5 linked regions of the Homo sapiens genome follow. The protein of the gene in region 3 purifies or fractionates together with the protein of the main gene of each other region. This does not show direct contact. Each region holds a gene or a part of one and is shown on either strand. Other genes may lie near its edges. The genes, in order: SAMD4B, NBEAL1, RGMA, ANO3 and SPICE1.

Region 1 (6,457 bases), on a different chromosome or scaffold from region 3:
AACCTCATCAAGTAAGACTCCTGACTGACTTGGCAGTTTATGACATGAATTCTGCAAATCCATGCTCTCTCTAGAGTCAGCCCATTCCAGACGAGCCTTATCTGTCTCTGCAGCCCCAGTGGCCAGCACCGTGTGGAGGAGTCAACCCCTCACTTGTTGAGCAGGGCAGGGACCTGCGGTTAGCAAGTCTCTAATCTTCCTTTTGCCCACTTGTCCCAACATCTTTTTGAGATGGGGTCTCACTGTCGCCCTGGCTGCAGTGCAGTGGCACAATCTCTGCTCACTACAGCCTTGACCTCCTGGGCTCAAGCGATCCTCCTGCCTCACCCTCCCGAGTAGCTGGGACTACGGGTGTGTGCCACCATGCCCAGATAATTTCTGTATTTTTTTGTACAGATGGGGTTTCGCCATGTTGTCCAGACTGGTCTCAAACCGATCTACTTGCCTCAGCTTCCCAAAAGTGCTGAAATTACAGGTGTGAGTTACTGTGCCCGCACTTGGCCCAACTTCTGCTCTCCCATCTCCAGGATGGTCTGTAAGCAGAGGTCAAAACAGCCCTCTCACTTCAAACACCTGTTCTAAGAGGTGAAGTCCACTGGTTCCTGTGTGGTCACCTGGCATCTGAAAGAATCCCAGTAGGCTGATGGGCAGGACTCCCCTCCACAGAAATCTCACACTTTAACTGTCCCATCCCCTCAACCCCTTCTAAGTTGAGTATTCAATGATCCTGTAAAGAAAGAGATGATGACAAAGAGCAACACAGACACTAAGATTATGACATAGGGTGGGAAACATGAGATGGGGTAGGAGTAAGGGGTGAGAGATGATGACTCAGAGGGGTGGGGGCAAGACCTGAGAGATAAAATTGAAGCAGAGGAGGAAAACAACCCCCCACAATTGGGGGAGATGGGTGCAGAGTGGTGTGAGGTATGGGGAGAGGTGCCAATGCAGTCTAGAAGAACAGTGGACATGAGACCCAGGAGAAAAAAGAAAGGTCAGCTGAGGATGTTGGCCAGGCAGAGTCCCAAGGGTGGGGCACCTCACCTGGAGGGAACATGAGAATGGCCTGGGGTGACGAGTGGACCGGGAGCGAGTGGGTGCGCTGCACAGAGCTGCGGCTCTGACTGGGCATGCTGTTGCTGCCTCCAGGGTTGGCAAACCACAGGTTCTACACAGGTCCCAGGAAGAGAGAAAGTAGTGAGTGCAGAAGAGGCCCAGACCCAAGAGTGGTGGAGGTGGTACAGGCCTTCTCCCACTCCCACCCCCGCCACCTCTAAGCTGGGTCCAGACACAGAGTATACAGGCAAATAGACATCCCAGGTACTGCCACCCCAACCCCAGGAGGCCAGGCCCCTGCTTCCAGCCAGCTTACCTGTCGGCCCTGGCCTCCAAGGCTGGGGCTGGTGAGGGCATGTCGAGGGGAGACACCCCCAATGCCCGAGGGGCTCAGGAGGCCCATCCGGCCGGGTGGGAGGGCCCGGGGAGGCATTGGGAACTGCCGCTGGGTACGCCGGGCCACTCCCATCCCCACAGAGCCAGCTATGGGGAGCGAGTTGGAGCCGAATGCCCAGCTATGAGAGAGCAGAAGGCAGGGTGTTAATTTACATAGATGGGGCCTATCTGTCCACCCCTTCCTCACCTTCCCCAACAACCCCAAGTTGTAGGAGAGAACATAAACCTCCATCACACATTCTGTCCTCATCTGCCCCAAGGGTACCCCCTGGAAGGAGATGGGACATGTACAAGGGTTTCTTCACTGTCCACTCAAAACAGTTCTCCAATCTTCAATTCTCAAAGGAGACATTTCTGTTATTTGTCTGGTCTAAGGAGGGACTTCCAGGCCCTCTGCATACAGGCGAGGAGCAAGGTACATATGAGGGGCCTGCTCATGGGACATGTGTTGTTTTTCAGCTCAGCATCCTATTCTAGTGGAAATTTTCTTCTGGGAAAGTCGCCCAGTGACTGAATAAAACTAGATTCTCAGCCCAGAACACAATCACCCCTCTAAGCACGATCTGCTAACCAGCAAAGGCCTATGGAGGGCAGGTCCCTGTAACCTGGCCACCCGCCTACCCTTTCTGCTGCCGGTAGTTCTGCATCTCTAGTGCGGCTTTGCGCGGGAATGTCCGGAGGAGCTTCAGCACTTGCTGTTTCCAGGATAGCAGCCGTTTCTTCTGCGTCTCCGTGAAAGCCTAGAATTGGCAGGACACCGGTGAAGCAGAGAGGGTGATGCTTCCTTCAGACCTCCCTTCCAGTCTTCCATTCATTTGTTCAAATATTTATTGCCTGGCCGGGCGTGGTGGCTCAAGCTGTAATCCCAGCACTTTGGGAGGCTGAGGCGGGTGGATCACTTGAGGTCAGGAGTTGGAGACCAGCCTGGACAACATGGTGAAACCCCACCTCTACTAAAAGTACAAAAATTATCCAGGCATGGTAGTGTGTGTCTGTAATCCCAGATACTTGGGAGGCTGAGGCAGGAGAATCACTTGAACCTGGGAGGCGGAGGTTGCAGTGAGCCGAGACTGCGCCATTGCACTCCAGCCTGGGCAACAGAGCGAGACTCTGTTTCCAAAAAAAAGATTCATTGCTCATCTACTCTGTGCCTGTGCCAGGCAATTCTGGGATGCAGAGGTGACCATGCCCAGAGAGCTTACAGTCTGGTTGTGAGGGAAAGATACATACATGATGATAACTGTGACAAATTATCCCTCCCTGAGGGAGAAGAACAGGAAGCAAAAGAAACTTAAATAAAAATGAGGGGTTGGTAAAGGTGTCCCTGAGGTATAAATGTTTGAACTGACAGCTGAGGGGTGAGGAGGAGGAAAGGGTACTGTTGCTGACAAAAGAGTATGTACGGGCTGGGCATGGTTGCTCATGCCTATAATCCCAGTACTTTGGGAGGCCAGGGCAGGGGATCGCTTGAGGCCAGGAGTTCGAGATCAGCCTAGGCAATAAAGCAATACTCCATCTCTAAAAAAGAAAATCGTCACGCCTGTAATCTCAGCACTTTGGGAGGCTGAGGTGGAAGGATCACTTGAGGTCAGTTCAAAACCAGCCAGGGCAACAGTGTGAGACCTCGTCTCTATTAAAAAAAAAAAAAAGAGAGAGAGAGAGGAAGAGTGTGTACAAGGGTTCTGAGAAGAAGCCTCTAAAGCCAACACTGGTAAGATACAAGACTGGAAGGGCTGGCATGTGCCACGTCAGGTAAGGCCCTATGGGCCACATACAACACAATGGTCTTGAGAAAGATGGGGCAGGCTTTCCCTCACTCTGTCGTCCAGGCTGGAGTGCAGTGGCGCGATCTTGGCTCACCACAAGCTCCACCTGCCGGGTTCACGCCATTCTGCCTCAGCCTCCCGCGTAGCTGGGACTGCAGGCACCTGCCACCACGCCCGGCTAATTTTTTGTATTTTTAGTAAAGACTGGGTTTCACTGTGTTAGCCAGGATGGTCTCGATCTCCTGACCTCATGATCCGCCCGCCTCGGTGGCCGAAGTGCTGGGACTACAGGCGTGAACCACCACGCCTGGCCGCCTTTCCCTTTTTGAGTATGCTAGGGAAGGCCTTACCTCATGAGTCAGGCACTTTTCGATGAGCTGGAGGTAACTGGTGATGTTCTCCTCGTCTGGTCGGGACACCAGCAGTTGGGTGCACACTGGGGGGACATGAGAAAGGGCAGGAGGTTAACCCCTAGTATGCCCTCTGCCATGTTCCAGCCTCCAGCTGGCTCGTGCACAAGAAGGAACAGGAGACTCAGGCTGGATGAATATCAACTATTAAGTGCTAGCCATGGTATTTGGGTTATCATGAGGATATACAACATAGTGCCTGACACAATCTTGTCACTACACACATTTTTAGCCTTAGAAACCTAAAGCTCAGAGTTGAGTCACTTGCCTCAGGTCCAGATCCAGATCTAGACTGATCTGGATCCAAGTGTAAAGTCTGCTGTATCATGCTGCTTTAGGAAAGGCTGAAGCTGTGATAAATTTCACCATCCCCATCCCCTGGACTTTGGTCCCCTCTGAGAGAAATCAATGGACTCCCCTCAACTGCTCACCCTTTACTACATGGAATTTCTTCTGACCCACTGCCCCATTTCTGCTCAGCCTGGAGACGCTTTGAGGGGAAGGGCTGTTATCCACCATCAGCCCAGACGTGCCCAAGGGCAAGGGGCCTTGTCACCCTGTCTTGGCTACTCTCTGTAGTGTTCCAGTCTCCAGTAGGCTTTACAAAGCCCTGCTCCCACCATCGAACTTGGATTTGATCCCTGGTGCTTGGGTTCACTTGGCTTTCTGCCTCAGGATTTCCTGCTAGGCTGTGGCTGGTCTCACCTTTGCCCATCACCCGTGTAAACTGGCTGGGGATGTCTCCGTCGGCGACGGGAGCCGGGGCAGGCTCACTGCCATCAGTGGGAGCTGGAGCTGGTGGAGGTGGGTAGTTCTCCACAGCTGGAGGGTCCTTGGCCTCGGTGCCTTTGTCTGTGCCGGGGTGGGCTAGGGGAGGCTCAGCACCTGGCAGCGGTGGTTCCCCCGGGGCCCCATCCTTGGCAGTAGGGGTGGTGGTGGCGGCAGCCACGGTGGCCTGGAGGACACTGTAGGCCTTGATGGGAGTGATGATGATCTGCTGCAGCTCCTGCAGAGCGTTTCGTAGGTTCCCGCCTTCCAGCACATCCTGGATGGGAGGACACAGGCTGGGGTCACATGCAGACCCTACAATGAGGGACAGAGAGTATCTACACAGAGAGTCAGACAGGGCTTGCAGAAGGCTGGGTAGGACCCTGGGTTCCAGCACATAGAGAAGGCATGTAAGGGTACTGCAAGCCCACAAACATATAGGTACACATTTCCTCTTTCCCATTAAGATGAAGTCCCACAGAACTCACGAAAAGCCAGTCTAATGTTGGAGTCTCAAGGACCCAACAAGGATAGAATCAGAGATTCAGACCTAGACACTGAGCAGGGAAAAATACAAACAGAAGGCAGTGGCAAGGAAACGGAATCAGATGTGGAAGGAAAATGAGTTTAGAAACAATCAAATGGAAAGAGAGATTGTACAGACAGAGACACTCTGCTCTACCAGAAAGACCAGTAAGAAATGGAAAAGCAAAAGGGGAGAGAAGGTGTAGAGTCAAAAGACAGAGATCCTGGAACCACAAACCAGGAAAGACAGGGAGGGGAGACTCTTAGCCACCAGCAAGTGAGCCTTTTGATGCCGGCTTGCATGTGGTCCCTGAAGTCTGGGTCCCTAGGGCTGGGAATTTTGGAGGCCACATCCGAGGAGTCTGGAGGCCAACTCAGGGCCTTTGGTCTACTGGTACCACCAAGTGGCTGGCTGGCCTTGAAGATGCAGAAACCAGGTCCTCACCTTCTCTAGGGACTTGAGGACGCTCTGTCTCTCACGCAGCTTCTGGATGCTCAGGGCTATCTTGTGGCGGGCACCTTTGGTGACGTTCTGTGATAAGGGCAGAAGGGGACAGGAAGCTAGAGATGTGAGGCTGAGATATTTGGGGGTACCCAAATAGAGATCAAGGAGACAGAGGAGGCTTGGGCTGCAAGGATGCCAAACTAGCGCTGCCCCCAGCACCTCCCTGATGGTCCCCTTGGCTTCACCTGAGACTCCAGGTGCTGCTCAGTCAGTGTCATCATCTCCTCGTAGCTCATCTGTGAGAAGAGGGCTGCATACTTGTGCAAACGGAGGCTCTTGAGCCATGAGGGCACATCTTTGGCAAAGGAGGGAGAGTGAAAGGTCAGGAGTTTGGCCCAGATTACCAGGGTAAAGGAAAAGTTGTGGGGATAAACCCACAGGAAGCCTCAAAAGATGCAAAAAATTGGGAGGGGGTTGGGGGGAGCTAAGGTTCCATCAGCTCCTTCTTCATCTGCCTAGCCAGACCCTCAGGCAGCCTTCCCTGGGAAGGACATCTGACCCTTCTAAGCTGCTAGGCTGGATGTATACCAGGATGACCTCACTGATTGCTCCAAAACTCTTGCTGGAACCTCTGTTCCATCACTTAGCTGTGTCCTGGCTTCCTTGTCAGACTGGGGTGTGTGAAGACAGGGGGCTCCTTCCCAGTCAGACTAGAACTTGTTAGGGTAGATGTGGGGTCTCTCTGCTTAGTCCTGAGCCCTAAAAGCAGGGACTATCTACTCCCCTCAGACATGTCCCCTCCTCAGAGGGGTAAGCAGGTGTCAGCTACAAGCTCCTTTCTGTCCTCTAAGCTCTGCAGAAGCCCCTGGAAAAGGGTCCTGGTGCTGCTGTCCCCAATGTACCTTTCATGCCACTGCCATCCTCCTGGAAGGTGTTCCGGCTGGAGCCCTGCTCCTCTGTCTGCTCACTGCCAGAGGAGGCCACGCTGCTCTGGGGCGAGAGAGGTGCGTGATCGGGCGTGGTAAAAGCAGCCCGGGCCCCAAGCTCCTCTGGACTCGGCCACTCACCAGGGACCTGGGGGCTTGTAGGGA
Region 2 (5,367 bases), on a different chromosome or scaffold from region 3:
ATATATTACTCATTTAAAGAGTATAGCCTACTGAATTAAAAATCACTAGATAAAATAATTGGAAAGAAGTACTTTTGAGAATTCTGGTATATTTAGATGTTACCCATAGAAATTAGTTATATATTATATAATGGGAGAAATGAACAGTATCATTGGAATGAAATAACAGGTGGACATTTCAATTGGTGAATATAGTATCTCAAGTTGGCTCTTACAAAGTCTGTTACCTGGCCAATTGTGGTGGCTCACGCCTATAATCCCAGCTCTTTGGGAGGCCGAGGTGGGCGGATCACAAGGTCAGGAGTTCAAGACCAGCCTGGCCAACATGGTGAAACCCTGTCTCTACTAAAAATACAAAAATTTGCTGGGCATGGTGGCAGGTGCCTGTAGTCCCAGCTACTCAGGAGGCTGAGGCAGGAGAATCGCTTGAACCCAGGAGGCAGAGGTTGCAGTGAGCCAAAATCGCACCACTGCACTCCAGCCTGGGCAACAGGGCAAGACTCCATCTCAAAAAAAAAAAAAGTCTGTTATCTTTGCAAAACTTTTTGTATGCTTTTGTTTCTTGATACTGGTGATGACAAAAATAAAAATCTCAGCATCCTGGTGATAGGAAGAGATTTATACCAAGATAATTATTTTACTTTTGGAAAATGAGATCAAGTATTAAAACATGTAATAGCTGTGCACGCTTAGAGAATAAAGAACCTTTATAAAATTTTTTTACAACTGTTTGCAATCAGTATTCTGGCATTACTCAGATAAAATTGTAAGAGAGAAAGAAAAATAGATCAGGGCATAAAAATCAGGAAAGTATATAAAAATGAAGTTTGGCAAGTTGGTTTAGTCTTTCTTTTTAGCCTGTGAAGCTCACGTCTGTTATTAAGTTAATAACAAAATTAAAATCTGTTAACTTTGTTTAGGTCACAGTGCAGTGCATCCTTTTGTAGAAGAAAAAATACCAAGTGTTCATTCTGTCATTAGCAAGGAACACCAATGAGGTTTCTTTTTTTTCTCTATTTAGGGCATATTAAAATTATCCTTCAGAGTACTTGTATTGAAAATCAAGTTTATGCTTCTGAAAAGAATAAGTGGGCTCTCAGAATTAGAATTCAGATTTGACGGTTGAATCTTAAGACATTTTATATTTTGTGTGAAAAGGAGTGGTCAGGGGAAACTGTTAACTTGGATACCAGATTTTTATTTAATGATGATAGAGATATGACCTTTGCCTTTATGTATATTTTATATTGTTACTACTAAAGAGACCACTGAGGAAATCTTGTAATTGAACTTAAGGAAGTTAGCTCCTTTTATATATTTATAAAATGAGTAGCATTATCTTTACCACCTTTCCACTGAAAAGATGCAAGTCCTAGGACTATATTAAATATAAATATTATATTATTAAATAATATATGTAATATGGGTGTCTGTTGGGGTTATGTGTGTGTAAAGATTGGTCTTTTCAAATATGTATATTTAAACCTGTCTTCTGGAAACAGGTTCTTGAACCTATCTTTAGGATACAGTTTTTGACTGGGATATAAGAAATGAAACATGTTTGTTTGTTTCCTTTTTGTTTGTTTGTTTGCATCATCAGCCATACTCATGGCTTATCCTACGCATTGTTCCTCTCATCAGCTGAAACTGTTTCTCCCCAATAAGTGAGCAATCTTAAACATTTTCATCACTCTTTAACAAAATCCATTCTCAATATTCTTTTTGCTGAATTCGTATATTGTATATGCTCAACATATTATTTGTTTTAAACTTGACTCCATCCAGAGCATTGTTCTATAGAGTTTTCCTGTATTTATCAGAGTCATGTGGTATTTTTCTTGATGACCTTAGGCAACAATATAGTGTTATCAGTCATCATTTTAATATGATTTAAAATGTGGACCACAGCCTGCCTTCTTTAGTTTAAATCTAGGCCAAGCATGGTGGCTCATGCCTATAATCTCAGCACTTTAGGAGGCTGAGGCAGGAGGATCACTGGAGCCTAGGAGCTCAAGACCAGCCTGGGCAGCATAGTGGGCTCCACCTCTACAAGACATTAAAAAATTAGCCTTGTGTGCTGGCAAGCGCCTGTAGTCCTAGCTGCTCGGGAGGCTGAGGCAAGGGGTTTGCTTGAGCCTAGAGATCAAGGCTGCAGTAAGCTGTGATTGCACCACTGCACTTCAGCCTAGGTGGCAGAGTTAGACCCTGTCTCCAAAAATACATTTTTTTAAATTTAAATCTGGCAGTTTCTAGGCCAGTGGTTCTTAATGGATATTACAGATCAGACTTCTCTGTGGAGTTTATAAATATACAGATATGTAGGCACTGCTTTGGACTTCATGAATCTCTTTGCTTGATATTCTTGGTATTAAAAAATTATGTCTGAGGATTATTATGTTATATCCTAAAAATTTTTCTGCATAGAAATTTGTCCATTTATCTTTATATACCAGATCCAATATTCAGACTTATTTGAAAATAGGCTTAATCATTATCCTGAGGGACATTTTGTCTAAAATTTGCTTGGAATGGCTTTATTATCTTTGTTTTGCCTGCCACAAAAACAACAAAATCTCCTTTCAATTGAGTTATTTTTATCATGAACTCTCTTTAGACTGTTCACATTTGAAAATTATAACTAATATTTGCCTCCAGAAAAGTACATCTGTTTGCTAATATTAGTTCCTGGTGACTTTCAGTGAACGTTTTGCAAACTTGAATTAGGCAACATTTTAAAGAAGAAAAAAACATGACTAACATGCTAAATTTAAAACATAAAAGTAGATCTCTTAGAGCCTTGAAGCTTGTAATCAATAGAATTTTCCTAATTAAAAAGCATTGGGTAAATTATCTACTACTTCCAATGACTTTTGCAGGTACAGCCTCTGTATGGAAATAATCTTTAATTTTTTATAGGTATAACAGAGAAGAACGCATTAACATTTAAGATGTTTAATTCCAAATAGGAAATAATTCAGTTTTCTGTGTTAAGAAATGTAAGGCCATCCTAGAGTATAGGAGTTACGTGATTTTCTTCTGTATAAAAATCTCATTTAATAGTGGCTGTATTATCAGATACTTATTTGATTATAGTAATTCATCAGACACATCTCCTTCGTTTGGTGATTATCTCATTGATCTTTGTCACACGTGAGTGATTTCTAAACACATTGCAGGATTTGGACCTGTAAAGCCAGTGGCTTTAGTGATAAGTAAAAGGGCACATTCAACAATATTTACCTTTGTCTTAATGCCCATAATCTTATGAACTGAAAATTCAGAAGGAAAAGAACAAATAGAAAGCTACTAATTCAATATTTGTTTTTCATGGTACGGTTTTCATGTTTCCTTGGAAACATATTTTGCAAATATAACAATAATAGTAATAACACAATTTTGTCATTTAAAAAATTACCCATTCATTTTTCAAACTTGACTGTTAGTGGAGGGGTATATGTGTGTCTGTGTTTCCACTTATGTAATGGCTGTCTCATTATTTAAATTAATTTATAATTATTTTTCAGTGTACAGAGTGATTAGCGGCTTGTAATGCTGTTACAATGTAGCATTGTAATGTAAGATGAAGAAAAATTAGGATTTAGGTGGGATTTTTAAAAATTTATCAATTCAGCTACTTTTTAAAAGAAGTCCTATTCCAATTGGACCTTTAAAATTTTTATTTTGGTAATATTTCAACTTAAGATGTATTAAAACTAGCAATTCTGTGGTAATCAGTGTACTAGTCAACATTAAAATGCTATTTTGGGTTGTCTTCTTTTGGTAACATATTCTGACACTAAGCAACATGTTTTACAATTTAGTGGGATGAACCTACAAATTCATAAATGCTTCTCTTTATTTTGAAGGAAAAAGATACTTGTCTGTATACGACATAATTGTTTTACTCTTCAGAATGTGAAAGTTATATTAATCACTAAACACTTTAAGAAGTGGTTCTGGTAGGATATCAGTAGTCAGACTTAATTGAAAAACTGTCAGCGTCTGTTTTGTATATAGGGATTAAAGAGGATAACTTTATTTTTTCCTTTGGAAAGAATAATTCTTTTGGAATTTTGGAATTTTGATTTTCTTAGATGACTTTTTAGCAATTTAATGATAATAATTTCTATTTTTCTTCCAAAACTATGGCATGTTATAGTAGATCTTACTATTAAAGATCTTTTATATTTTAAACTGTTTTTTTCCTATTCTGCTTTTTGCTGCTCTCAAAGACTGTGATTGATGAACATCACCAAACTTTTTTTGTGGCAAACTGCTTATTTTATAAGTAGCTTTATATAAGAAAACTTCTTAGAAAACTATGTGGCTGGTTGGTTCCATTTAGAAACTCTTAACAGGTATGGCTTTCATTCCTCCAGTTGTTTGCTTTTATAGACTTGGAGCAAAAAATATAGCAAAAAGTAATCATATCTGGCTAGATAGCCATTTCTCTCAGATTCATTGCTATAAAAATGAATCTACTGAGGCATAAAAATATGAAACATATTTAATTCATCTCTTTTGTCAGTTTTTCTGGGACTCCAATAGCATTTCAGTGTTATAGAGAGTGACAGTGACTTGAATGCATGTATATGCACATAGTCAATTCAGAGCGTAATAACTAAAAATTCAGAATGACTTGTTTTTTGAAAGTACTTGGAAATTGTGCTGCTACTTAAATATTGAAGGAATTCAGAAAGTTGTGTATTTATCTTAAAATGTTCCTTCTCACTTATTCTACTGGAATTGACCATGAAAAAGAAAATATTATGCCTTATTTATATCTAATTATTGACTGTGCAAACTGTGACTCAGTGGATATTTGTATGCCCCCCAAAAACATTTTAAAGCTGAGCAATTTTTAATAAAGATGTATAAATAATTTTGATTATTCTCATTGTAGTTAAGTTACTGTTAGTTTGGTGCAATACATTCTTTCCTTCCTCATCCTTTTAAAATTAAATATATAAGATGTATGTTTTGTTTTATTACATTAAGTGCTATTTTTAAAAAATTCATTGTGTGTATATGAGCTAATACTTGATTTGTTTCTGTATAGCATGATTAAAGATAATTGAAAATTTTGCACTTATTTTAGGCCCTTGGAAATTTGTATTCTAATACTTTTTAAGAATGTCCATTTATTTTGTACATAATAAATTAGCTTTGTATATGAAAATGGGTTTGAATCAAATAAAAAAAGTGATGTTACTTTCTTCAGTTGATTTGTAATTCTCAGTTCATAGAGTCTGATTAGAACTTATCCTTGGCTAAGTTATTTGGGTAGACAAGAGATTGAATACAGTATTTGTTAATTAGAAAATTGATCAATGTTTCTTTCTCATATGAGCAGAATTTCTTCTGTAG
Region 3 (6,457 bases):
CTAGAAGGTATAACTTTCTGGACTGCAGTACTGGGCAGGTGTGCTCAGCTCACACCCTGTGGGGCAGCTGGCTCTGTGTTCAACGCAGCTTGCTCTGAAAAGCAGCTTTCCTCTTCCGCTTGCAGGAGTTGCTGTAAGATCTGTTTTTCAGCTCAAACTTTCCTTCCTTCTTTCCATGGACGTTCGCATCAGAAAAGTCTAAGGTTTATTGCCTGGAATTGGGGTCTTTTTATAAAGATACAGCACATAAAAATCGGCCTCTCTGAGATCTCTTTGGCAGGTGACACCACAGCTATTGCTTTTGATGCTGGGCCAGATTTCATTCAGGTCCTTGACCTCTGGTGGGGGGCTGCAGTTGGTGATTTAGTGCCGTGGAGGCAAGGTGACTGGATGGCCGTGGAGGTCAGGGCCCCTCACTCCAGTCGCTGCCCGTGGGGACTGCCCAGCCCCTCGCATGGGAAATGAGGCCACACACACACATTTCTGGGACCCATCGTTCCCAGAGAGCTTCCTTTCCACATGGAGAGATGGCAGAGGGGAGCAGTCACCCTTTATTCTGGTCCCAGCTGGTCACTGTCAGTGGCCTTTTCCAAGTCATTCCCTTGAGCTTTGGAAGAGAGGAAGCCTCGTAAACTCTTAGGAAGATCTGCAGAGCTGGATCCAAGTTCCCTGAGAGTTTGGGACACCTGGGAAACCCAAGAAGTCGGGATGGGTCAGTTGGCAGCAGCCGCTGCTCCTGGTGGGCTCCGCACAGACCTTTGTGGAGGGAGGGCCCGGAATCGATTAAGCTTCTGGTTACTGCCCTGAGACCAGATGGGTCTGCGGCTGCATAGGAGACCCGCATCATGCTTTTGGGCCTTGGGGGAGCTGGGTCAGTCTCAGCTGGTGTCCTGAGGAGGGACTTGTGGCAAAAGCATCTTGAAAAGCATAGAAACAGCTCCAGGCCTGCCCATCTCAGCCCCAGCCCTTCCACTTGTGTGACCCAGGCCCGCTCGAGCCCGAAGCCTCCGTGTTTGCATCTGCAAAATGACGATCAAAATTCTTGCCCTCTAATCGGCAGTAGCGAGGATCCAACAGGAAAGCAATGTGTCACCTGCACAGGCCCCGGGAGCGCAGGCTATTTTATTGTCACGATCATGTTTTGTTTTCTGGGGTGAGGCCCAGCCCACGTACCTACCCAACCTCCCTATGCAGTCCTGGGTGCACAGCCTCTTCCCCAGTGAGGCCCCCAAGACAAGAACTCTTGTCTTCGTTCGTCTTTGTGGCCCCGCAGCACCTTCGTGTTGCCCGGTATGGAGCGTGTGGAAATCCGAGAGGTGTGAAGGAAGAGGAGAATGCAGCTTGGGGGCTGAGGGCTGTGGTTTGCACCTTGCCCCCTTCAGGGTACCTGAGGGTGGGGTGGGTGGGGAGCTATTTAATGCCTCTAGGCCTCAGTTTCCCTGTCTGTTGAATGAGGATAACAAGTCAGTCCTGGGTCTATATTAAGGGCTAAAGGAGACACATGTACAATGTCTAGCCCACAGTAAATGCTCGATAACACATTAGCTGTTAGTTAAGCTCAGCCTCTCCCATAAATTGTGATTAAACAAAACAAAGTTAACACAAAACTGGCTGTCACAGAGCTTCCTTCCCGAGTCTCCCGGCTTTGCTCACATCAGTGCCTGCAGTCCCTTTAACACCCCTCTGGTGAGGTGCCCGTGCATGCCTGTAGCTCAGAAAGGTCAGTGAATTTGCCCACAGTCACACAGCTCTGGAGTGGCGGAGCTGGAGTTGATCTCGATGCTCTGCCCCACCACAGTAAGGTCCACCGCTGCGGTGAGACCCTCCCACTGGGCACTGCCCCATAAGAACATCTCACCTGTTGCCTGTCGACCCTGAATTCTCTCCAGTTCTCTCTGGGTGGGGAAATTGCAAGTATCCTTATTTTTCTTTCTCATATAGGATCTAAGGTCTCTTCATTTACTCATTAACAAGGGAAGGACAGAGGCAAACTTGTTGAAATTGTGCTTCAGGACCCAGAGTTTCTCACCGCATCTTCTCCCAGAAAATGTCTCAGCAGAAGAGGCATTTTAGGATGCCGTGAAAACTTGGGGAAGGAAGGGGTTGTGACAGGCAGGAAACCGAGTGCTCTCTGTCAGGAACAAGGACATAGAGACTGGACCACACAGGCTGTGGGGTACAGAGGTCTCCCAGCAGAGATACGAGAGCTCGATGTGCCACCCCCCAATCTCTCCCTCTGAAGAGCCAAGGGGATCATCCCAGGCCTGGGCAATCCCTGGGCGAAAACACGTCCTTGTCGGGAAATGGGAAAATGGGGTAGGTGAAGTTAAGTCAATCTGGTCCTTTGGTCTCTGGCCAGACAAATGTCTCCAGTGATACTGGCAGCTTCTGCAGAGGTGACTTGGGAGGGTGCAGGAAGGAGAGGAGGGAGGCGGCCAGTTTTCCCTCTATGACTGTCTCTTTAGCTTGGCCACCATAAGAAAATACCCCAGCCTAGGAGGCTTAAGCAACAGACGTTTATTTTCTCAGCGTTCTGGAGGTGGGAAGTCCTAGATCCGGTACCAGCATGGCCCAGTTCTAGAGAGAGGGCCCTCCTCCCGGCTCTCAGACTGTGGACTTCTCATTATATCCTCACGTGGCAGAAGGAGGGAGAGGGGGCAGGGAGAGAGAGAGAACGCTTAGCATTCTCCAAATGTCTTTATTTTAAGGGCACCAACCCTGTCGTGGGGGCTCCACTCTCATGACCTCATCTGAACCTAATTACCTCCCAAATGTCATCCCATAAGGGATTAGAACTTCAACCATCACATTTAGGGGGACAAAGTTCAGTCTATAGCGCTCTCCCTGGGCGTGAGTGAGGTAGTGGGGTGAAGCCACCTGGTGCCCATGGGAAGCGAGGCCCCCTCGACAGTCATGACCATTGACTGATCCTGGACAGTCAGTGGATTGAAGGAGCTGCCAGGAGTTGGGGGACCTGGATCCAGGTGGAATCCACTGCGCCCTGAGAGTGAGTGCCAGCAGGGCCTACCCCGGGGAAGGAGGGAAGAGGAGAGATGCCACATCTGCTGGAGCTTCACCAGGGAGGGGCAGGCTCCCTCCAATGCCCCTCCTGTCCCCCAAGTCTGTGACTTCTAACCTCTGACCTCCCGGGGCTGCAAGCATTGTACCCCACTGTGGCCTTTGTGGGGGACCCTGTTTGTTGGATGCCCCTGGGGCTCCAGGCACGCCATGTACATCTCCTCATATCCTCAGCGACCCTTTAAGGTGGACACAGTCTCTACTTGACAGTTAAGGAAACAGGCTGAGTCAAGTTCCCGAAACTACTGGTAGGGGACAGAGTGGGACTTTGAACCAGACACCTCCCTTCAGGGCCTGTGCTGGCCCTCAGCCCACCCAGAGCTGGGGCTGGCAGAACTTGGAGGGAATAGTGGGGCACGGAGCTCACCTCACCACCAGGGTCCTGAAGCCTACAGAGGAGTCGGGGAGACGGGGACCCTGGTTCCTGTGTGCAACGGTTCCAGAGTGTGACCTCTGCCACCATCTTTGAGTGGCAGGCAGACAGCTACGCCTGCTGGGTGAGGGGTGGTCTTGTTCTTAGAGTGGGTGGGGTCTGGGAGGAGGAGAGGAGCAGGAGAAGGTGCCCATGTGGAACGGAGAAGTGAAAGGGCCTCGTCTCAGGCGCTTCTTAGCCGCTCTGCATCAGGGCTAAGGTGGCCGCATCCCTGCTGTTTGCTCCTGGGGGCGCTGTCTGCCTCTTGCCACTCCTTTGCCTGCAGCCCCCTTCTCTGAAACTTCGCCACCAGCCCCCTCCCCATCCTGGGGAAATGTCGCCTTCACACACTCCGGGCTGGCCCGGCTCCATCAGGCACTAGCTTGGCTTCTGTGACCGTTGAAAAGAAAGTGAACCAACTCTGAAGCCTCACTACTCAAAGTGGGCCGGGGACCAGCAGCATGGGCCTCTCCTGGGAACTTGGTAGAATTGCAGAACCCCTGGGCTACTGGGGCCTGCCGAGCTGGGTCCCAGGCCACCCAGTACAGCCTCATCTGGGGCTACCAGATCCCACTCTGTGGCCCTGGAGCATGCGAGGGACCCCTCTCCGGGGTACCTGGGTGGGATTTCTGTCATGAACTGCCCACATACCCCAGAGTTCTGTAGCTGCGGTGCTGCTCTGAGAACAGTTTTGAAGGCTGTGGAGGTAGCAGATCCCGATCACGAAGCCAGTCCACTTAAAATTCAGGAGGCTGCGGAGTTACCCATTTGGAGGGTAGAGCCACACCTGGGCACCAGTCTGACCCTGCCGTCGAGCCCCTGCTCACCCTGGGAGGTGACCCCTTGGAACTTGTCTGCTGGAGGCAAGGCAGGGAGAAAGCGTGTGTGGATCACAGGCCTCCTGCTCCTGGGAGCACAGTGTCATAAGATGGGTCTTGCAGGAGAGGCTGGAGCCCACCCGTGGGGGAGGGAATCGGGTGTGCTAATGAGGTTGTGTGATGATGTGTGGCTGCCGGGGGCGTGAGCTCTCAAGTCCAGCGGGCTGGATTCATGTCCTGCCCTGGCTCCTTCCTGGAAGTGAGACTTGGGCAAGAAGTCAGCCCAGCAGAGCCCGGCTTTCCCCTGAGAGCTGGGGATGGCAGTCGCACCGGGAAGATGCAATGAGGGGAGGCCTGTACCGCCTGCAGCACCGGACCTGGGACGGAGCCAGCCAGCTGGGACTTCACGGTCCCTGCTCTCCTAGGTTCTACCAGATTTGGTCGTGGTGGAGAGTCAGAGCCCAGCACAGCTCCTGCTTGTGTTGCAGTGGGACCTGCTGTAAAGGGACAGGCAGTGTTCTTTCCTCTACTTTGGTCACAGTAAGTGCCACAGGTGAACCGGAGCTTGAGCGTGGCCATCCATTAACAGGAGACCAGTGTTCCTTCCGGTTGATTTTCTCTGACACCCACATCTGCATGATTCTGAGGAGGCAGAATGGCAGGTCAGCACACCGGGCCCCTGGAATTAGTGAGGCTGCCGGGACAGGCATTGTGTGTAGGCCACCGCGCCAGTCAGTTCCTGTGTGCTGGGTCCCTCCAAACGCTTGTTCTGCGTAGCACTCCCTCCCCATACACGCCCCCACCACACTCACCTCCTGTACCGGCTTTATCAGGGGGCGGCAGGGAAGCTACCACACCAACATTTCAAAGCCTACAGGTAGGTTGGGCCCTTGCACATCTTGTACAGGTTAAGGAGACGTGAAGACAGCAGGGCAAGAGAATCTTCTCGTTGCCTTGGGAGGGAGACCTCTCCTCAGGAGCACACCTGTGTAGGAGGAAGACTACATGGGGGCATCTCACCAGTGCCCCCCACGTATCTACCACAGCATCCCTTTACGGTGGTGTATTAGTCTGTTTTCACACTGCTGATAAAGACATACCCAAGACTGGGTAATTTATAAAGGAAAGAGGTTTAATGGACTCATAGTTCCACATGGCCGGGGAGGCCTCACAATCATGACAGAAGGCAAAGGAGAAGCAAAGGCACATCTTACGTGGCAGCAGGCAAGAGAGCATGTGCAGGGGAACTCCCATTTATAAAACCATCAGATCTCATGAGACTTATTCACTACCACCAGAACAGTATGGGGGAAATGACCTCCTGATTCACTTATCTCCACCTGGCCCCACCCTTGACACGTGGAGATTATTACAGTTCAAGGTGAGATTTGGGTGGGGACACAGCCGAACCATATCAAGCGGGCACCACCTGACTGTCATTTACCTAACCTGACCCTTTAAGTGAGTATACTTCTTCAATTTAAAGCTAATAAAATGGAAAATCTGTAGCTCTTCCATCAATTTTTTTTTTTTTTTTTTTGAGATGGAGTCTTGCTCTGTCTCCCAGACTGGAGTACAGTGGCGCCATCTCAGGTCACTGCAACCTCTGCCTCCCGGGTTCAAGCAGTTCTCGTGCCACAGCCTCCCGAGTAGCTGGGATTACAGGTGCGCACCACCATGCCCAGCTAATTTTTGTATTTTTGGTAGAGAAGGGGTTTCATCATGTTGGCCAGGCTGGTCTCGAGCTCCAGACCTCACATGATCTGCCTGCCTCGGCCTCCCAAAAAGTGCTGGGATTACAGGCGTGAGCTGCCATACCCAGCAATTTTTTTTTCTTAATGCACATTTAAATAAAGATATGACTTCTCAAATTAAAAGACAAAGTGTTCACTTAGGTATCACCTGAAATTACCTTGTTACTGGCAGTATGGCAAACGGGTCACGTGAAGGGGGGAGCCCAAATTTCAGATGAGCACTGACTCGCCCGTGCTCAAGTCTGTGATCTGGGAAGGTGACTTGTGCTCCAGTAGGATGGTGCCCACCCACCTGCAGAGGCGGGAGAGATCACCCAGGTCCAGGGCTGCACAATGCAGGCTGGGTTCACACAAGGCTGCTGGGATAGGTAGGCACTCGTGCTCGCGTTAGCCTG
Region 4 (6,999 bases), on a different chromosome or scaffold from region 3:
GCTCAAACTCTTCTTTCTACACTTCCAAAACGTACTTTCTTTCTTTACACACACACACACACACACACACACACACACAGAGAGAGAGAGAGAGAGAGGAATCTTTTTCTCTTTGCACTGCCTTTCTATAAAGCAGATGGTGCTTCAAATTTCCTCGGCCCCTCACAAAGCTGTTCCTCTAGCAACCTCCCCTAAAAGACTGATTTTAAAACAAGCAAAGATGTTCTTTGAATCCCCTGCTAGTCAATCTGGCAGTCCAACCTAAAATGTTTCTAATTTTAAGAAAAGTAATTAACTTTATGACAAGATAGTTTAATCATAGCTGCACCAAGGAGGTTAGGGTGCAAGGGTGTTAGAAATAATAACAAACATTCTTTCCTTGGAAAAAAATCCAATGAGGTTCAAAATCTCAACTCATTTCTAGTTCTGGCAGATACATATTTGCCTCCTGCTGGGTTTTGGATCAGGGAGTAGGTTGGAGAAAATCAGGGATCAACAGAAAAAGATCTTAGGAAGGTAAAGGTGATACCTGTGCCTAGAAATGTGGAATAGAGGGACTTAAATTTTTTTTTTTTTTTTTTGAGACGGAGTCTCGCTCTGTTTCCCAGGCTGGAGTGCGGTGGTGCGATCTAGGCTCACCGCAAGCTCCGCCTCCCGGGTTCAAGCCATTCTCCTGCCTCAGCCTCCTGAGTAGCTGGGACTACAGGCGCCCGCCACCGCCCGGCGAGGGGACTTTAATTCTTTTAACTAGTCCTGCTGACCAGGGATTGAATTAAAGTTTAAATTTCAAAAATATTTCTGATTCTAAAACCGGTGATTTAAAAGGGGGTTTTAAACATTTAAATGAGATCTACAGGGGTCATAACTGACTAGTAAGTATTGGGTGTTAGTTTTCTGCCATTCTTAAATTCATTGTCTAATCCTCACGTAGGAGAATTGGGTTGCATTAGAATCAATGAGTTGGTTCACATCAGAATGATCTGTAAGCTGAGTTCTATCAGAATTTTAACTCTGGATGAACAAAATTTAAAAAAAACATCCTCGAGCAAGTCATTTATTCTTCTCGGTTTCAATGCCCTCATCTATACAATATCTGTATTAAAAGCCCTTACGGAGACAGTCTCTGAACTGTGTTTTAGATCTTCATTTGGAGGTGAACTCACACTGAGTTCATTGTCTGTAACCAAGTATTTCTTCAATGCCTGCATACTGAGCTCTTATTGAATGCTCAGCATTTCTTTCTGGAAAGACCATTATGATACATTAAAGAAGGTAGCACATTGTTTGCTCTTCCTCCCACTGAGAGTAGAATCCAATTTCGCTTTTTGCTTCAGATGACTTTAAGACCAGTTACTGAACAATCAAGAGAGACTCTGAGAGATAACTGCCTGTCTGAATCTAGCCCACCTGCAAAATCCATAAGTAATAATAATAAATTTTAGTTTACAGCTTAGTTTCAGGGTAGTTTGTTATGCATCCATAAATAATTGGAGCATCTGTTTGTTCAAAGCTATATTCCCCTCATTCTTTTGTATCATGCACCACAGATGAATCAAACAGCATACAATAATAACTCAATATTTTTGAGGTATCGAAAGTTTGGAAATTTCTGCATATTTTTTATCTGCTTTTATTTGGATTATTCACCTGATTCTGAGTTGATTCCATAAAACTTCAAAACTGAGGAAGCAACGGACTCTCACGATGTGTCTGTTCAATAACATCTTACATCTTCCAGGAAGAACTTAGGGCTTTGAATCAGGGAGCAGAGATAGATGGAGGAAAGGAGATCCTACTGAAAAATGTGTTCAGCTAGCTTCTGGTCCTATTTTGGCCACTGCAGTTTGGTCTTTCAAAAGTTACTTCAAAGTGGGAGCTGAATGATGAGAACACACGGACACAATGGGGGAACAACACACACTGGGGCCTGTTGGAGGGGGAGGGAGAGCATTAGGAACAATAGCTAATGGCTGCTGGGCTCAATACCCGGGTGATGGGGTGATCTGTGCAGCAAACCACCATGGCATACGTTTACCTATGTAACAAACCTGCGCATCCTGCACATGTACCACGAACTTAAAATACATGGTGAAGATATAAATAAATAATAAAATAAAACTTCTCAAACTAAACAAAAAGAGTTACTTCACTTCTTTGGGTATCGGGTGCCTTCTCTTTCAAATAAGGTGTTGATTTATGTGGTCTTGAGAAATCTTTGTTGCTCTGATCTTAAGTTTCTTTTTATAATATTAGAATCATAGTTTACCTACATTACAGGGCTTTTATGAAGATTAAATCGAGCATCGTGGGTAGTGTTTTTTCAGCCCCTGTGACTAAGTAGGTTATAAATGGTCCTCAGTCATCATCATCATAAATGATTCAAGGCCTGAATGGCAGAAGAAGAAGAGGAAAACTCAAGTGAAAAGTGCTAGACATAGAACACAGCTTACCTAATAAAACATGCTACTGGCTAACTAAGCTGGGGTGGCTTTCTGCCCCCTCTACTTAAATTTAAGAAAGAAAAACAGAAACGTCTCTGCATCTGCCACTGCATACCCTCTCAGAGCACAGACCAACTTTGCCCTTCCTTAAAAGTCCCAGGGTTTACCTACCAACTTTTAGGAAATAAATAACCAGCCTCAAAGCTTGGCAAAGAGGGCATCAGTATCAGCTCTAGAGGTTTGCTCCGATTTATATCTCCTCCTCCAGTAAAGTCTTCTGCTCCCACTCCCAGCCAACCCCGCTCAACGCCCACCCCTCACTGTGGCACTGGACGCGCGGGGGATGCGGGGTTGTTCCCAGAGTAGCCGCTAAGGGGAGCCGGACGCTAGACCGCCCTCCCGCGTTCCCATGACAACGACACCGGCGGGCGCGTAGCCTGGAGAGCGAAGTGCCGGCTACAGCAGGTGTCGGATTGCAGTGCGCTCGCTGAGGCTCCGGACCTTGGAGCGTCTAGAGTCTGGCTACTGTTCCTCCGCCTCCCTCTCGGGCAGCTCCCTAAGCCGGCTGGGACGCGCAGAGTGAAAATGGTCCACCATTCAGGCTCCATTCAGTCCTTTAAACAGCAAAAAGGTCAGTTGGAATCTTGCTCCCCTCTCCCTGCGGGCGTCACTTCCCCCCTGCATGCCCTTGCAGTTGTGTAGGAGCATCCTTTGCAGGCTTATGCGACACAGAGGTGGGGAACTCTGTGAAGTTAAAAAAAAAAAAAAAATTAAATTCCTCTTCACTCTGCATCCTAGATGAGTGATTTTCTGAGCCTCCGCACAGTGCCTGGGAGTATCGGAATTCGTCATTTCAGGACTTGACTTAATGTATATCTCTGTGAAGACTGTTTCAATGCACTGCAGTAAACCCGCTTAGTAGGGATTGTCCGAATAGCTCAGTAGAGCTCTGAGGGGTGAGGACAGAAATGTTCAACAATATCTGCCGTCTTCTGTGGTTCAAATGTTGAGTAATCTTCACAAAAGTGTGTCTACTCCTTGAGACGCATTTACACAATCATAAGATAAATGAATTCTTGGGGGAGTTCCAGAGTTGGCCTGTTGCAGTTAAAGGGGCTCTGTCACTTCCTTGGGAAAATTTATTGTTTGCCCATGTCCCATGCTTGATTCTGGGTTTCAAGTTCTTGAGGTTAGGTTTCTCTTCTAGGGGCTTCGTATTATGTCTTTTAGTTTCTCCCTCAAGTTTCTTGCTGGGCATAGTGACAAGAATCTGTATGTTCAAGTTATCCTCACTCTTTGATCTTTGTTTCTTATTTGGTTTAAAAGGCTTTTTACAGAGCATTTTTATTTTGAGGCACATTCACAGTTTTTGGAGTTTTATTATCCAGAAGCATTAATTAACACAATTGCCACTTTGCTGAATTAATAATGGTAATTATGATACAGTTAACCATAGAGTGCCTTAGATGTGTGAATTCTGGAATGCTGAATTTGTTCATTCAAAGTAAATATTTACTTAAATATTCTCATCCCCACCCTCCAGATATTATTTGTATTTCTTTCATCAACAGTTGTTTTTATGTAGCTCTTTGACTTTTTTTTTTTTTTTGAGGTGGAGTCTCGCTCTGTTGCCCAGGCTGGAGTGCAGTGGCGCGATCTCGGCTCACTGCAAGCTCTGCATCCCAGGTTCATGCCATTATCCTGCCTCAGCCTCCTGAGTAGCTGGGACTACAGGCGCCCGCCACCAAGCCCAGCTAATTTTTTTGTGTTTTTAGTAGAGACGGGGTTTCACCGTATTAGCCAGGATGGCCTCCATCTCCTGACCTCGTGATCCGCCCGCCTTAGCCTCCCAAAGTGCTGGGATTACAGGTGTGAGCCACTGTACCCGGCCCTTGACTTTTTTGTTTGTTTTTAACAAAAACTAGATTAACACACAAGAAACAATTTCGAAGGGATTCCTGCGTAAGACAGAATATGGGACTGACTGAGTTTCCAGTTCCATAATTCTGTACTCAGTTCAAGCCCAAGTTCTCTAGGATGTTTCAAATATATGTTGAAATTGGGAGTGATGTGTGAGACTGTAGGGGTAGACAAAAATTTCACCTAGTATGCACTTCTACTTCAACTCTAAACATTTCAAATAAAGTTAAACTGCTTCAAGAAGTTGTGTTCTCTTTAATCATGGTTTTAAACATACATAAACTTTCAGAATGAAGACAAAGATGATAGGAACTTTGCAACAGCCTCACAGAATAAATACCTCCACTGATGCATTGGCTATGGGTGACTCATTTCTGGGATCTGGAAGCTTCAAATGGCCCCCACAACAATGTATTATGTATGGATACATGTTGTGTTTTTAAGAAGGAAATAATTGACAACTGTAGGTCCGACCGTCATTGCTCAAAGAGAGTGATAAGAAATTGTGCAATTGCTGGCATTTCACATTGTTTCCTTTATGATGCATTATGAGCCATTTAATTTCAAGTCTTCCTTTACTCTTTGGCACAAAAGGCAACTTCAGCAAAAGGATACAAATCTAGAGGAGGAGTACTCCGGTAGGAAGGAAGCAAGATTCATTTTAGCTAAGTGGTTCTGGTTAATGGCTTCTTAATCCTGCATGGGCATTAGGAAAAAAACAGACCAAATTGAGGATTAGCTATTTTTATTCTTCAAATAGGAAGAAGCAAAATAATTCTCTAGATGTGATCTGTCCTAGGAGGTATGCAACAACAACAACAAAACATTCAGATGTGCTTTTCACCATAAAATTAACCTGAAAATTGCACATTAAAATGGAGAAAATTCTGTAGTGGAACTCTGTACTCCTAGGTTCTAAGCTTGCGTTTGTTACTAGCTGAGAAATCTTCAACAAAGTGGTTAATTTCTTTGGACTTTGCTTCATACATAACATGAACAGAATACATTCCTAATCCCTTTGGCCTTTTCTGTCTCTCTTCCTCTGTTTAATGGGAGGGACGGTTTGCATATGAAGGCAGAGATGATTTCTTCTGTGACCAGATAAAGAGGAGAGCCTTGCTTTTAGTTTACTTTTACGAATTAATTTAGCTGAAAAATCCAGTTGATGGAATTTACTTTTGTTTTATTCAAGTGAGCTCAATGTCTCTTTTAAAAATTTTGATTTCAACTTGAAAATATCTAGAAATAGCCTGATATAACTAGAAATCACCCTTGTTATATTATTTTTAAAGTTTCCACCCTTAATTGAAAAACAGACACACTCAATATTTAAACTCTACACAAGGCATAGGGATTCTCCTTTATATATGAGAACTATGTATTAACCAATCCCCGATCAAAATTGGTTTTGATAGGTAAGTATAAGTATAGTATAGATAAGTATAGATGCCAGACTGGTTATCTGGGAAATGAAATACTGTATGTAAGCCCTAATTTATTAATTTAATCTCTGGTCTTTATTTTGAGCCCTGGATATTAATCCAATATATTCTACTTACAGGTTATGTCATTTAATATCACTAAGCCACAGTAACTGCTTATGTGAAATGAAGATAATTATGTCTATCTTGCAGAGTTATAAGGTGTTTAGCAGTTTGTCTGACACACAGTTGGGGCTCAAAAAATTTAGTGATTTTCCTTACTAAAATTCATCTAGGCTCATTCACCTTTGGTTGGCTCTTTAGTAGTATATTGGACTCTTAGCAGTTCCCTTATAATTTCTTGCCTTTTTTTTTCTTTTGCATCACGCAGCTTTATTACTTTGGGATTCATCTTAAGGAAAACAGTGGACTCCAGACCATCTATGGATGGTTTTTTAAAATAGTCTGGAGTTAACTATCACAAACTCTCCTCAATTCATATGTCCATCCCTCAGGAAAACTTCCAAAAAATTCCCATAGAAATTTTTAGGTTTGTAATTAACTTTATAATCTAAAATGTTTTTGCAAGAAATGGTATTTATTTACTGTCCACTCTTAAGTACCATGCTTTTGCTGCGTGTATGCCAGGGACTGTGCTTAATAATAGCATTATTCAGTCCTCTTTTGTTGCTGAATCTGTTGCTGCAAAACCCTCCTCCTTAAAGGACTTGCTACTATAGGAAGTTTGAGAGATTTGCTAAACACCTTTACGAGAATTGCAGACAACTCTGCACTTCTGTAGGAAAATGTTGACGTTTTGTTTTTTGGCAGTGCCAGTTGTGTTTATGAAGAAGATATACACAAATAGTTTTGAATTTTACTCCACTGTAAATTTTAGATTATCTTATTAGGAGGCTTAATAGGAAGTAAAAAGTGAGACATCTGTGCAGTGGTGGGGAGGGGGAGGCAGTCTGCTTATTTTTGATGTCCCAAGGGTAAATTGGAGTGTATTATGGTTATAGACAACTGGGAGCATATGTTTGCTTTTGTCTTAGCACATCTTGTAAAAACACATTAGCTGACACATCAGCAGTGATTTCTGGGGAAAGTCCAACTTTCTTCCTAGCCTGGCTTTCCATGTTTTGCTTGATTTATGATGAGCTCATGTGTCATACAAGGGTGGGCAAGAGAAAGACAATGATAGTTTTGGCTTCTGG
Region 5 (6,457 bases), on a different chromosome or scaffold from region 3:
GCTGGAGTGCAATGGTGCAATCTCAGCTCACTGCAACCTCTGCCTCCTGGGTTCAAGCTATTCTCCTGCCTCAGCCTCCTGAGTAGCTGGGATTACAGCCGTGCACCATCATGGCTGGCTAGTTTTTAAAATATGTATTATTAGTATAGACTGAGTTTCACTATGTTGGCCAGGCTGATCTCGAACTCCTGACCTGAGGTGATCTGCCGACCTTGGCCTTGCAAAGTGCGGGTATTATAGGAGTGAGCCACCGCGCCCGGCCAAATGACTCCATTTTGATTCTGACAGCTTTCACAGTACATACCCCTAAAGGCAGTCATTTTCTGCCTGTAATGTCCTTTGCTCAGTTCCTATTACATATGTAATCATTTAAAAATTTTACTTCCTCAGAGAGGCCTTTCCTGGTTATCTGCTGTTTAAATTGGGTACTTATACCCACTTCCTCATTCCCCAAGATTCCCAGATGTGAGTTAATATATGCGTTAAAATGTGAACTTGACAGATGGTTTTTCACAAGGGTACTAACAAATGCTTTAAGGAATGTAAAAAGTCTCTGTACTTGATTACGAGGGGCGGCATTGCTGGTGTGTTCTCTGCTGAAAATAGTTTAAGCATTCAGAAGCCAAACCCTTCTACTGAAATACTTTTCTAACTACCATGGTGGGCTAATGAAATGAGTATAGTGCCAATCTATGGGAAAATAATACATATTTGTTATTTTTAAATTCTTATCTATAGTATTGAGAAGGACTGTTCAAACTCGTCCTGCTCCACGACTTCCTCCAACTGTGGAAATAATTGAGAAGGAACAAAATTGGGAAGAGAAGACCTTACCTATTGATACAGACATTCAGAATTCAAGTGAAGAGAATCGTCTCTTCACTCAGAGATGGAGAGTCTCTCACATGGGAGAAGATTTGGAGAACAAAACTCAGGCTCCTTTTGTTAACCTCTCACAGCCCCTCTGCAATTCCCATTCCAACACTCAACAGTCAAGAAGCCCCACATTCTCAGAAGAGCTCCCAGTACTGGGAGATGGGCAGCAGCTGAGAACAAATGAGTCATTAATACAAAGAAAGGACATAATGACACGAATTGCTGATTTGACATTGCAGAATTCAGCTATCAAGGCACATATGAATAATATTATTGAGCCCAGAGGAGAGCAAGGGGATGGACTCCGGGAGTTGAACAAACAAGAAAGTGCAAGTGACATGACTTCTGTGAGTACCATTTAAGGATTGATTAGGGACATATAGGAATTTAAATAGGAACTTTAGCTTGGGCAACTTAAGAAACTTCTTTTCAGAAGTGATCCTAGAAAGCTTTGAGGCTAGATGGCTTATGTTTGGCATGTCCTCAATACAATAGGTCCAAGTTATTTATCAGTCTGTTGTACATACAATACAAGACAGCATAAAAGGGAAATTATATAAATGAAAATAGGACAAAGATAAAATGCGTAGGAAAGCTAAGATTAAGTTAGGAATGAAGTTTTAGGTATAAAATATAGAATTAATGTTACTTGAATGTTTGCCACACAGCCACATGTTAATTGAAAATATTTTTATTTTTAAAATGGCTCATAAAAGAGTATTGGCCCTCAACTCATGAGTAGTTAATTTTTGAGGACATAGAATGGATTTTCCTATAGAAATGAGGTGGTTTTTTTGTTTTGTTTTGTGTGTTGTTTGTTTGTTTTGTTTTTTTTGAGACGGAGTCTTGCTCTGTTGCCCAAGCTGGAGTGCAGTGGCATGATCTCGGCTCACTGCAACCTCTGCCTCCCGGGTTCAAGTGATTCTCCTGCCTCAGCCTCCTAAGTAGCTGGGATTACAGGCATGCACCACCACACCTGGCTAATTTTTGTATTTTTAGTAGAGACGGGGTTTCACCATGTTGGTCAGGCTAGTCTTGAATTCCTGACCTCGTGATCTGCCCGCCTCAGCCTCCCAAAGTGCTGGAATTACAGGCATGAGCCACTGCGCCCAGCCTGTTTTGTTTTTTTGAGATGGAGTCTCACTCTGTTGCTCAGGCTGGAGCGCAGTGACGCAATCTTGGCTCCCTGCAACCGCCACCTCCTGGGTTCAAGCGATTCTGCTGCCTCAGCCTCCCAAGTAGCTGGGATTACAGGTGCGTACTACCACACCTGGTGAATTTTTGTATTTTTTGTAGAGGCGGGGTTTCGCCATGTTGGCCAGGCTGGTCTCGAACTCCTGACCACAAGTGATCTGTTTGCCTCGGCCTCCCAAAGTGCTGGAATTACAGGCATGAGCCACTGCATCTGGCCAGAAATAATGTTTTAAAGGATTATTAAAGCCAGACTTTAATATACATATTAATCATCTGGGGATCTTGCTGAAATGTGGTTTCTGATTGAGTAGGTCTAGGGTAGGACCTGTGCATTTCTAATAAGTTCCCAAGTGATGCCAGTGCTGCTAGTCTGAGGACCACGCTTTGAGTAGCAAAGGTCTGCATTTTATAGTGCAGGAGTTTTGTAAGTTAAATAAACTTTGTGGGCTAACCTGGTAACTTAAACCTTCATTTCGTTGTTTCTGGGGGAGATAGGGAGTCTAAATTCCAGCTAGGGAGGGTTTATAAAAGAGCTCCAAATGCTGGTTCCAGTGATGGTAGACACTTTCTTTTACCCCTTCTAGAGCCAAGGCCGCTCCTGTCAAGTTTCTGATAGGAGGAGCTGGGCACTGTCACTGGGGATTAGAAGCTCGTGAGGTGGCTGTGTTCATAAGGGCTTTAACAACAGTGGGTTGGAGGGCTTTGGTGAGGAAGGTTAGGGTGAGGTGAGTCATAGGGTAAGGGCCATCTCTGTCAGCACTGGGTCATGGGGAATAAGGACAATATGGGTATTGAATCATAGAAGTAGACAGAAGGAACTGGCAGAAGAGGAGCCAGAAAGGAATATTGCTAGTAGGGAGCAGCCAGCCATTGGTAGTGGTGTATATAAGTAAATATCAACTGCCTCAATTTTGAGTCACTGGGAGGCATTTATATATTTGTAGTTTTGAAGATTATTCATAACAGGCAACTCTTGGTTTAAAAAAGACAGCAGAGTCTAATGTTTTGCTTGCCTCCTTTTCTAATTAGTATGTAGATCAAGCTGGAAGGGACTATCTAATATTTCTGTCTTCACTACCCTCTTTTGTTTTAATTGGAAATACAAAATGATCTTTAATTCATACTGATTTTCCTATTTATTTATTTATTTATTACTAATAGACATAAGCTAAAAATCAGTGATTTTTATTAGGGATTATTTTTTTCCAAAGAGAAATGAAATAACTAGGACTGAAATAATGACATAATTAGGAATAATGAAATAATTAGGAATGACATAAGCACATTTGGGGGGGGAATTTTCAAATTAAATTTATGCTATATTTTTTGGGCGGCTATTTTTTACCCTACCTCTCATATTTCTTTCCAATCACCAACTATTCTTGAATCAGATACCTTAGGCCAAAAGTGGCTTGGGGAGGCTGACATATGGTTAGAAGGAGTGACAAGATTCCCAGAATCTTTGCCAAATGGTGCATATTTGAAGCCTGTAATTATAGAAACTTCTGTTTCCAAGATAGCAGATCCTCTTTTGTAATCTGTCAAACTGCAGATCTGTCTTCAAAGATGTGTGGCATTTACTTAGAGACCAGCTCACTTGGAGCAGTCTCTTTGCTCATGTGATCTTTTGTGCAGCTCTGCAGATACTAAGAGATACAGAAAAGCTTTTCCCAGAATATATGCTTAAAGGGACTGTAAATTCTATTGTGTGCTCACTATTCACATTTATATATAATAAGGGCTATGAATACTAACTTGCTGGCCATTAGTAAGTCAAAATTGTGTGAGATCGAGGTGGGTGGATCACGAGGTCAGGAGATGGAGACCATCCTGGCTAACACGGTGAAACCCCGTCTCTGCTAAAAATACAAAAAATTAGCTGGGCGTGGTGGCAGGTGCCTGTAGTCCCAGCTACTCGGGAGACTGAGGCAGGAGAATGGCGTGAACCCGGGAGGCAGATGTTGCAGTGAGCCGAGATAGCGCCACTGCACTCCAGCCTGGGCAACAGAGTGAGACTCTGCCTAAAAAAAAAAAAAAAATCGTGGGAGAGATTTTTCAGTATTCAGTATTCAATTTGTACTTTTTTTTTTTTTCTCCCAAAGACTTTTCCAGTAGCACAGTCTCTAACACCAGGTAGTATGGAGGAACGGATTGCAGAATTGAATCGACAAAGTATGGAGGCTCGTGGAAAACTACTGCAGTTGATAGAGCAGCAGAAACTTGTTGGTTTGAATCTTTCTCCACCAATGTCACCTGTTCAGTTACCTCTCAGAGCATGGACTGGTTGGTCACAAATTCATGATTTAAAAACTAGAAATATGAAGGTTTTCAGTTTTCTTGATTTTGCAAGTTTATATTAAGCCAAAAGAAGTATCAGAGCATATATTTTGGTGCCTTCAATTTTGCACAGAAAGAAATAGCCCTAACTCACAGGATAAGTGACAGAAATGGGATTAGAAGGCAGATCTCCTGATTATTTCTATCCTATGATGCCTATAGTTAATCTTTGGTGTCTGAGTTCCTAAATTATCGTACATCTAAATGGGATTCATTATAGTGTACGGTTCACTTAGGTCATATGCTGCAACTAAGCATGAAATATCTGAATGTTCATTTAGAATTTCATCAGCAATGAATTACAAGTTATTATTCTGTAAAACACTTAAAACATTTTCACTCAATTAAATTTTTTGTTACATTTAGGAATGTGAAAAGCTAGAGGGGATTCTGAATAATAAAATAGTAACTGAAAAAATTGTCATAGTATTCACATTCAAAAAGATACTGATGAAACGAAGTATGTATCAAGTTGCTTTTTATCAGAAATTGCATTATTAAGGCCCTCAAGGGACAGCTACATGAAGAGTACTGAGAGATTGATTTTGGCCCAGTAAAAGAGAAGGCTCTAATTGTCAGGAATAGAAAAAGCTCCATGTACCAGTAATTGATGTGTTCTCTGAGATGTTCAAACATTGGTGTTTGAAGGGGACTCATATGTCTTATTTCTGGTTGAAGTAGGTTACCTTTAAGATACCTTCCAATAAGACTTTTCCCCTCAGAAATTATTTCCTTTTTGAAATACAGACCCAGAAAGCAGACTCTTTTGGAAATTGCTGGAAAAAGATGGTAATGCATTTCCCCAGGGCTCTCTGTTTATTCTAGGCTTCCTCAAATGACAGTTTTGTCTACTGTTCTTCATAGTTATGAAGCCTAGAGACAACTTCTGATTAGAATAAATAAATCAATTAACTATATATGAACATGTACTATGTGCGAACATGTACTATGTGCGAACATGTACTATGTGCGAACATGTACTATGTGCCTGCCATGTGTGGGCTTGAATACTCTAGCATTTGAGTAGGGGAGCAGGCAACAAACAAATCAATATTTGGGATAATATCAGTTAGTGCTAAGTGCAAGGAAGAAAAATAAAGCAGATCAGCCTTAAGAATAATTTTGTGTTTAAATATACATCTTCCATTTCAGTATTTGTGTATGGTTAAAATATGCTTTTATTTATGTTATGTAATTTAGTCCTCAACATACTTTAAGAGGAGACAGGGCTAATATTATACCTATTTGATGAATAAGTAAACTGAGGTACAAAGAGGTTATGTGATTTATCAAGTTACAAAGCAAGTTGTGGATTTGCAACTGCGTTCTTTCCTGTCCAGTGATTTATCTCTAAAGTATTCTTTTTATAAGTAAAATTCTTATATTTGTTTAAAAAAAAGCTGCTGTGGACTATAATGATAAAAATAAAAATAAACCATATATCATGAAAAACCTCTTTTGTTTTCTAGGGTAACTGAGGAATATTTTGTAAAATTAAATAGGGTTTTATTACCTTGTAAAGCCAGGAAGTCACACAAAGTCAGGAGCCTCTGTGAAACTGCCTGTGATGAACATTAAGTCTTTCATTAGTAAATACTTAGTAAATATGCTGATTGATTACCTACTTCTGAAATATGGAAAATATTCATAATTATACTTGCTATTGGCCATATGGAGCTCTTCAGCCAACTTTCCTCTCCTACTTTAATGTCTTCAGTAATAGTCATAATGTAATCGATTTAAAAGATTTAAAGTTTTACTGAATGACTTCAGAAATTTTCTTTTTCCTTTTTTTTTGGGAAAACTTTAGGTAAGCTCTTTTGGACAAAGATCTCAAGCTCTTTAGGGCTAGCTCTTAATTCCTGTTTTTCACCTCCAGAGCTGACATGATGCCACTTGTCTGAAGATTTTGGCTCTCTATGAACTGGCATGCTACTGAATTAACACTAGTAACTAAAGTTTCTTATCCCACAGTTCAGTAAAAAAAAAAAAAAGTCTTTCAAGTGTATCTTGGGCTAAGATTAAAACAGATGGAAAGAACCACCAAATT

The links.
Region 1: the proteins of RGMA (region 3) and SAMD4B purify together in Homo sapiens (affinity purification with mass spectrometry; one large-scale study listed by BioGRID and IntAct). This does not show direct contact.
Region 2: the proteins of RGMA (region 3) and NBEAL1 purify together in Homo sapiens (affinity purification with mass spectrometry; one large-scale study listed by BioGRID and IntAct). This does not show direct contact.
Region 4: the proteins of RGMA (region 3) and ANO3 purify together in Homo sapiens (affinity purification with mass spectrometry; one large-scale study listed by BioGRID and IntAct). This does not show direct contact.
Region 5: the proteins of RGMA (region 3) and SPICE1 purify together in Homo sapiens (affinity purification with mass spectrometry; one large-scale study listed by BioGRID and IntAct). This does not show direct contact.

What each region holds. Positions count from the first base shown.
Region 1 is NC_000019.10:39,375,701-39,382,157, reverse strand, and holds part of SAMD4B (protein Smaug homolog 2), read right to left. Parts: coding exon 6,269-6,457; intron 5,722-6,268; coding exon 5,612-5,721; intron 5,454-5,611; coding exon 5,367-5,453; intron 4,712-5,366; exon of another isoform or gene 4,674-4,711; coding exon 4,334-4,673; intron 3,655-4,333; coding exon 3,569-3,654; intron 2,193-3,568; coding exon 2,074-2,192; intron 1,572-2,073; coding exon 1,373-1,571; intron 1,169-1,372; coding exon 1,045-1,168; intron 534-1,044; coding exon of another isoform or gene 446-533; intron 1-445.
Region 2 is NC_000002.12:203,219,975-203,225,341, forward strand, and holds the end of NBEAL1 (neurobeachin-like protein 1), read left to right. Parts: 3' UTR 1-5,220; downstream 5,221-5,367.
Region 3 is NC_000015.10:93,053,621-93,060,077, reverse strand, and holds part of RGMA (repulsive guidance molecule A isoform 3 precursor), read left to right. Parts: intron 1-6,457.
Region 4 is NC_000011.10:26,329,250-26,336,248, forward strand, and holds the start of ANO3 (anoctamin-3), read left to right. Parts: upstream 1-2,880; 5' UTR 2,881-3,026; coding exon 3,027-3,072; intron 3,073-6,999. UniProt on the Homo sapiens protein: Has calcium-dependent phospholipid scramblase activity; scrambles phosphatidylcholine and galactosylceramide.
Region 5 is NC_000003.12:113,448,232-113,454,688, reverse strand, and holds part of SPICE1 (spindle and centriole-associated protein 1), read left to right. Parts: intron 1-738; coding exon 739-1,223; intron 1,224-4,172; coding exon 4,173-4,353; intron 4,354-6,457.